2 linked regions of the Homo sapiens genome follow. The protein of the gene in region 2 purifies or fractionates together with the protein of the main gene of each other region. This does not show direct contact. Each region holds a gene or a part of one and is shown on either strand. Other genes may lie near its edges.

Region 1 (3,813 bases), on a different chromosome or scaffold from region 2:
TTTTTTTTTTTTTTTTGAGACCCAGTCTTGCCTGTCACCCAGGCTGGAGTGCAGTGGCGTGGTCTTGGCTCACTGCAGTGTCCGCCTCTGGGGTTCAAGCAGTTCTTCCGCCTCAGCCTCCTGAGTAGTCGGGACTACAGGTGTGCGCCACCATGCCCGGCTAATTTTTGTATTTTTAGTGAGGACAGGATTTCACCATATTGCCCAGGCTGGTCTCGAACTCCTGGGCTCAAGTGATCCACCCACCTCAGCCTTCTAAAGTGCTGGGGTTGCAGGTGTGAGCCACCGTGCCCGGCCCTATTATGTCATCATTTGCTGAACAGCATCAACAACTACAACAGCAGTTGCTTTTTTTTTGCTTTTTCGTGACTTCATATTTGGACTTGACTCTTTGAGAAGTTGGCTCAGATCTGTGACAAAGCAGTTCCCTGCATTTGACCCTTGTTCCTACTGACAGCAAGTACCTCTTAAGGTATTGGTGGACCTTAAAATAAGCAAATTTGTTCTCTGCCTGCACGCTTAGGGAATAACCTTCTTGGAATGAAGGAGAGGCTGGGCACGGTGGCTCACACCTGTAATCCCAGCACTTCGAGAGGCTGAGGCAAGAGGATCGCTTGAGCCCAGGAGTTCAAGATCAACCTGGGCAACATGGTGAAACCCTATCCTTACTAAAAATACAAAAAATTAACTGGGCGTGGTGGCCTGTAGTCCCAGCTACTTGGGAGGCTGAGATGGGAGATTCACCTGAGCCTGGGATTTTGAGGCCGCAAGGAGTGGTGATCACGCCACTGCACTCCAGCCTGGGTGACGGAGACCCTATCTCAAAAAAAAAAAAAAAAAAAGTCTCCTTTGTTCTATCTCCTCCACACATTTGTTTGCAGACCTCGAAGGCACTCTGTGGGTAAGCTCAGAACAGTGGCATTCTAATCTGGTGTAGATAGTTGGGGGTCCTTAGTCATTTAGAGAGTGACCTTGTGCAAGGCTTATCCCTTTGCTTATTTCGTGAGCGTAGTGGACTGATAAACTCTGCCATTTTTACCCCTTTGGAACACAGCAAGAGACAGGATTTCTACAAAGCTTTGAACTTCAAAGTTGAAATTTAAAAATTTCTTTAGACTAGTTTTCTTTCTTTTTTTTTTTGAGACGGAATCTCGCTCTGTCACCCAGGCTGGAGTGCATTGGCGCAATCTCGGCTCACTGCAACCTCTGCCTCTCAGGTTCAAGCAATTCTCCTGCCTCAGCCTCCTGAGTAGCTGGGACTACAGGTGCGTGCCACCACACCCAGCTAATTTTTTGTATTTTTAGTAGAGACAGGGTTTCACCGTATTAGCTAGGATGGTCTCGATCTCTTGACCTCGTGATCCGCCCACTTTGGCCTCCCAAAGTGCTGGGATTACAGGTGTGAGCCAGCGCGCCTGGCCTAGTTTTCTTTTTCTTTATGCAGTCTTAGTAACCCAGAAAGGGAAAGGTTCCTAACATTTCACACCCACCAGGCCATACCCCCCAGCAGCAGGTGTCTCTCCTGAGATTGTTTGCCCCTTGGAAGGGTCTTTAAATGGACACAGGAGGCCAGGTGTGGTGGCTCATGCCTGTAATCCCAGCATTTTGGGAGGCCAAGGTGGGCAGACTGCTTGAGACCAAGAGTTCAAGACCAGCGCGGGCAACAAAGAGAGACCCCCCACCCCCACCCCACCACCCCAACCATCTCTACAAAAAATAAAAATTTGGCTGGGCGTGGTGGTGTGCGCCTCTAGTCCCAGCTACTCAGGAGGCTGAGGTGGAAGGATTGCTTGAGCCCAGGAGGTCAAGGCTGCAGTGAGTTATGATTGTGCCACTTCACTCCAGCCTGGGAGGCAGAACGAGACCCTGTCTCACTAAAACAAACAAAGAAAAGGAATGTAGTAATAGAACTCATATATTTGGTAAAGAGAAAAGCACTCAAAGTAACTCGCATGCAAGTAAAAAAGAATATGGTGCTGTGTGTGCTACCTTCCAGCCTTATGTCCCACATCCTTTTTTTTTTCTTTCTTTCTTTTGAGACAGGGTCTCTGTTGCCCAGGCTGGAGTGTGGTGGCGTGATCTCAGTTTACTGCAACCTCTGCCACCTGGGCTCAAGGGATCCTCCCACCTTAGCCTCCGGAGTAGCTGGGATTACAGGCACACGCCACCACGCCCAGCTACTTTTTGTTTTTTTTTTGTAGCGACAGAGTTTCACCATGTTGGCCGGGATGGTCTCGAACTCCTGACCTCAAGCGATCTGCCCACCTCAGTCTCCCAAAGTGTTGGGTTTACAGGCGTGAGCCGCTGCGCCTGGCCTGTATTTTTTTTTTAGAGATGAGGTCTCGCTAAATTGCCCAGGCTGTTCTCAACCTCCTAGGCTTGAGTGATCCTCCTGCCTCAGCCTCTCAAAGTGCTGGGATTTCAGGTGTGAGCTACCATACCCCACCAAGAGGAAGTTCAGAAGGATTCCAGATTGAAGGAATGATCTGCTGAGTAGTAGAAAAACACAAGTGATGAACAGAAAACACATTGCATTGTTTTATCCGTTCTAAGAAGTGTCTTTCTTTTAGGGAGAAGAAGTGGGTGACTGTGGGTGACACGTCCCTGAGGATATTTAAGTGGGTTCCTGTGACAGACAGCAAGGAGGTAAGTGTGGAAGAAAATCAAAAGATACCATTTTCTTTATTTCTTTATTTGATTGCCTCTTTTTTTTTTTTTTTGGGACGGAGTCTCGCTGTGTCACCCAGGCTGGAGTGCAGTGGCATGATCTTGGCTCACTGCAACCTCCACCTCCTGGGTTCAAGCAGTTCTCTGCCTCAGCCTCCCAAGTAGCTGGGGTTACAGGCATCTGCCACCACACCCAGCTGATTTTTGTATTTTTAGTAGAGACGGGGTTTCACCATGTTGGTCAGGCTGGTCTTGAACTCCTGACCTCGTGACCCACCTGCCTCAGCCTCCCAAAGTGCTGGGATTACAGGCGTGAGCCACTGCACCCGGCCTAATTGCCTTTTAATTAAAGGAATTTATTTGCCCAGAATTGAGTGGAAAATACTTCAAGGTACCCTGTTATTGGTCCATGCAAGGCCTCTCTTTATTATTTTCCTACTTTATTCCTTTCCCTTAACCCAAGCCTCTTTTCCAGGGCTTGACAAACTACAGCCCTGGCGTATTCCTTAGGTTTGTCAGTATAGTTCTATTAGAACATAACTGGCTGGGCGTGGTGGCTCACGCCTGTAATCCCAGCACTTTGGGAGGCCAAGGTGGGCGGATCACTTGAGGTCGGGAGTTCGAGACCAGCCTGGCCAACATAGTGCAACCCCTGTCTCTACTAAAAATACAAAAAAAGTAGCTAGGCCTGCTGGCAGGCACCTGTAATCCCAGCTACTCAGGAGGCTGAGGCAAGGAGAATCGCTTGAACCTGTAAGGCAGAGGTTGCAGTGAGCCAAGATCCCGCCACTGCACTCCAGCCTGGGCAACAGTGTGACACACCATCTCGAAAATAAGCAAACAAACAAAAAAAACCAAACACATAAGTATGCCCACTGATTTCCTTATTGTCTGTGGTGCTTTTGAATTACAGTGGCAGATTGAGTGGTTGCCATAAGGCCAAATGGCCCGTAAAACCTAAAATATTTATCATCTGACCCTTTAAGAAAAAGTTTGCTGATACTTGCTCTTATGCGATTAGTCCCCCACTGTATTGTGTGTATCATATGTATATACATCTTTCTAATTCTGGTGTAGACCTTTGTGCTTCATCTTTGTTGGATGTATTTGGATACCTGTATATTCTTTAAAAATACATAGCATTGT
Region 2 (3,813 bases):
CAATATTAAAATCAGTTTCAAGCCAGGCACAGAGGCTCACGCCTGTAATCCCAGCACTTTGGGAGGCTGAGGCAGGTGGATCACTTGAGGCCAGGAGTTCAAGACCAGCCTGGCCAACATGGTGAAACCCCATCTCTACTAAAAATACAAAAATTAGCTGGGCATGGTGGCACTTGCCTGTAGTCCCAGCTATTTGGGAGGCTGAGGCAGGAGAATCACTTGAACCCGGAAGGCAGAGGTTGCAATGAGCAAAGATTGCGCCACTGCACTCCAGCCTGAGGGACAGAGTGAAACTCCGCCTCAAGAAAAACAAGGCAGTTCAAGAAATTCATCTCTACCTTATTTGCTTCGGGAAAAAAACTTAACCAGCAGTAGATTTGGCAAACTTTCTCCTCTTTCGTGAAACAGCTCTTCTCTAAGCCAAGCAGATCAGCGGGATCAGCAGGGTGGACTCGCTGGCACTTTGTCCTCTTTCTCCCCTTCAGCATCTGTTGCTTCTTAATGACCTGGTGAATAGTCCTGGTATCTGAGAGGAGTTCTGAAATTTGGGGGTTTTTTTTACCCAAGTGGTGTGTGATGGGGGCTTTCTAGTGTTGAATCTGCAATACACAATTCACTTGAACTCCGGAAAATAAGTGAAAGGGCCAGATATCCAGGTATGCCTGGGCAGTTAATGTAGAGCTAACCCCCATTCCACAATGCTCCACTCACTCTCCAGCCAGCCTCACTTCACTTCAAAACAGCCGCAGCTCAGGCCCCAAAGAGATCCTATATGTTCTAAACATAATCACTTGTCTGCATTCCTGGGGAAGGGAGTTGATGAAGGCTCCTACCATTCCAGCTGAAGCTCTGCAGAGTATCTCTTAGGAGTTTGCATTCCCGGTTATACTTCCAAGCCTCCTGCATTACTTCATTCAGTTTCTCATCTTCATTCTCTCCTATTGGTAAGGATGAAGAGGAATTTGCATTTTTCCTGCAGCATCATGGGGTTTTAGTGTGAGAGATGGAGGGACGTGATGTCCAACTGGTTGAAAAATGTTGACTGAATGTGCAAAACTTCACCAGACAAGGGCTTTACTGCTAGTCCCTACATTATGTAGACCGCATCTGGTATGTGGACTCTTTTTTACTCTGACATCTTTATACAAATCCACTGATGGCCCCAGAGTCTTAGCACCAGGGGATGGGAAATAGGCTGTGGCAGACTCTATTGCTGAACAAAAGACACCTGGTCAACCAAAGACCAAAAAGTGGGAGAGTGGGCTACTTTCTCTCCCCTAAGCTCATTTCTTACTTTAGAAAGCTATCTGAGGTACACTACATGAGTTCTCTTAAAACCCAAGGAATCTAGGGAGATAGATAGGTCAACCCAACTGTTTTCTGGCCTAGTACGTGAAGCATCTCATTTATCTGCTGAGAATAGCCCCTCACCCGCCGATGAGTGGAGAGAGAACATAACGAAAGAAAGCTCTCACTCCAAAGGACCCACGTGTAAGTCACTCTGCCCATGACATGAGTAGCAGCAGGAGCCACTTCTGAACTAAGGAGGTATTCTCTTATTTATGAGCTAATGGCAGCCTTGCACTCTAAAGGCTCTGGAAATGGTTAACAGCCTGCAATGAGATTCAGACCCTACCCACATTTTCCATTCTCCATCCCCCAACCTGTGCCCTTGTTGTCAAACTAAGAAAACACAAAATTGCATGCTTGCACCTGACACTGCCAATTAAGTCTAAACTAGAAATTCCACAGAAACAAAGGAGGGGCAGAACTTAACTGCATTTCTAAGCTCCCACTGTCCAATCTTTTTAGTGGGCATAGACTACCTTATATAATGTACTTTTCTTATAACACAAGATGAAACAGACAACCCAAAATTAAACCATTCCTTTTGCCATGTGCATGCATACACCCACCCACCCCTGCACACACACACTCACAGACACACAGAGGATTAGTAAATGGTGTGACCTTTACCAGCCTGGGGGAGAATACACTGAGCAATCACATCTCGGAGTTTTTCCAAGGCAACATTGGAATCCTCGGCTCCATTCTCATGGTCGTGGATATAGACACTGTCCTTTGGCTTGGTGCTTTAAGAGTTTGAGGGAGGGGTAATGACAACGTGAGACCCCAAAAACCAACTCTGGACAGATATTACCTCTAAACATAAGGCAACAGATGTATCAGAAAAATAACAATAGTGTCCAACTCCTGATACTATTTAAAGAACTTATCCTCTCCACCCTCTTCAGAGGCTAAAGACCCCTAGCTGAGCAAGTTAAATTTCTTAAATTTCAGAACCCAGTACTCAGCCATTCCAGCCATGAAGAAGAATCGAAGAAATAAGCTCAGTTACCCAAGTAACTTCCTCTTCCGCAGAATGGGGTTGTTCACTGAGTGCAGGGGTTTGAGGCTGACTTTCAGATCCTGGATTCTCATGTTGGCCAACTGTTCCGCGTGAGCCTGCTGGATTCCTGCAACCACTGCCTGAATGCAAACACTGCCGTCAGTTTTTCATATTCATTGCTGGGCACCTAAAAAGCCAGTCTAAGAAAGTGGAAAGGAAAAGCTCAAAGTACTAAGAAGGTAATTTCACTCTTATGCTGAAGGAATATAAATATTTTGATAAGGCAAAGGACTTTTCCCCATGGATCAACAGGAACCAGGAAACACCAGGCCAACCAAAGGTCACACAACAACTAGCCCTTCTTCCCTGGTGGGGGGACAGAAATGCGAGTAAGAAATACCAGCAGGAACCCCACTCAAAGCCACTACTGAGGGGAAGTGTAAAGAGGCACATATGGACATCAGCGGAAAGGCTGGCAGGCTGCTGCCCAAGAAGCCTTACAGACGGTATTGATTCACCTCAGCCCTGACAGCTCAGAGCCCTGACCATCTCACATGGCCAAGGCTGAGGCCACATGACCGAGGCCACAACCAGTCAAGTAATTTACAGTGAGAAATAGCTGTCATGGAGTCTGGAACTCTGGAAGTTTGTGCTTTTATGAACAGTGTATAATCTCACTACGGGCAGACGAAATCATCAGAAGGCTTCATAGGAATATGATCCCATTTTTGTATTTTTTTTTCCATTTTTGTACTTTAAAAGAAGGACAGAATGTGTGTGTGTGTGTGTGTGTGTGTGTGTGTGTGTGTGTGTATCCCAGAAAACGATCAGGAAGTATACATCAAGCCATAGATTACCTCACCTCTGAGGGGTGTGACTGTGGCAGGGAATGAAAGGGAACTTTTACTTTTTAACACGGCTGTACCACCTGAATTTTCACAACAAGAATTTTTTTGAGAGAGTCTTGCTCTGTCTCCCAGGCTGGAGTGCAGTGGTGCAGTCTTGACTCACTGCAACCTCTGCCGCTGCCAGGTTCAAGCAATTCTCCTGCCTCAACCTCCAGAGTAGCTGGGATTACAGGCGCATGCCACCACGCCCAGCTAATTTTTGTATTTTCAGTAGAGATGGGGTTTCCTCATGTTGGCCAGGCTAGTCTGGAACTCTTGACCTCAAGTGATCTGCCTGCCTCAGCCTCTCAAAACTGCTGGGATTACAGGCGTAAGCCACCATGCCTGGCCTTATCTCCTCATTTTTAAGATCTTGAGTAACCTCTATGTGCTGACAACCAGGATCTAAGTAATCCCTTTGGATTTTTGAATGACCAAACCATTTCTGGACAACAGGAAGACAACCACCCACAAATCAAAGAGAAGGCAGAGAACTGTACTTTCCAGTTCTCCTTTTTCTTCCATGCTCCAGCTAAACTTAGAAAGAGACGTCTAACACTTCCACCCTACCCCTTC

What was found.
Region 1: the proteins of MAPKAPK5 (region 2) and BCL7B purify together in Homo sapiens (affinity purification with mass spectrometry; one large-scale study listed by BioGRID and IntAct). This does not show direct contact.

What each region holds. Positions count from the first base shown.
Region 1 is NC_000007.14:73,551,000-73,554,812, reverse strand, and holds part of BCL7B (B-cell CLL/lymphoma 7 protein family member B), read left to right. Parts: intron 1-1,143; coding exon of another isoform or gene 1,144-1,265; intron 1,266-2,570; coding exon 2,571-2,646; intron 2,647-3,813. UniProt on the Homo sapiens protein: Positive regulator of apoptosis. Plays a role in the Wnt signaling pathway, negatively regulating the expression of Wnt signaling components CTNNB1 and HMGA1.
Region 2 is NC_000012.12:111,887,165-111,890,977, reverse strand, and holds part of MAPKAPK5 (MAP kinase-activated protein kinase 5), read right to left. Parts: intron 2,491-3,813; coding exon 2,360-2,490; intron 2,094-2,359; coding exon 1,978-2,093; coding exon of another isoform or gene 1,972-1,977; intron 939-1,971; coding exon 834-938; intron 1-833. UniProt on the Homo sapiens protein: Tumor suppressor serine/threonine-protein kinase involved in mTORC1 signaling and post-transcriptional regulation. Phosphorylates FOXO3, ERK3/MAPK6, ERK4/MAPK4, HSP27/HSPB1, p53/TP53 and RHEB.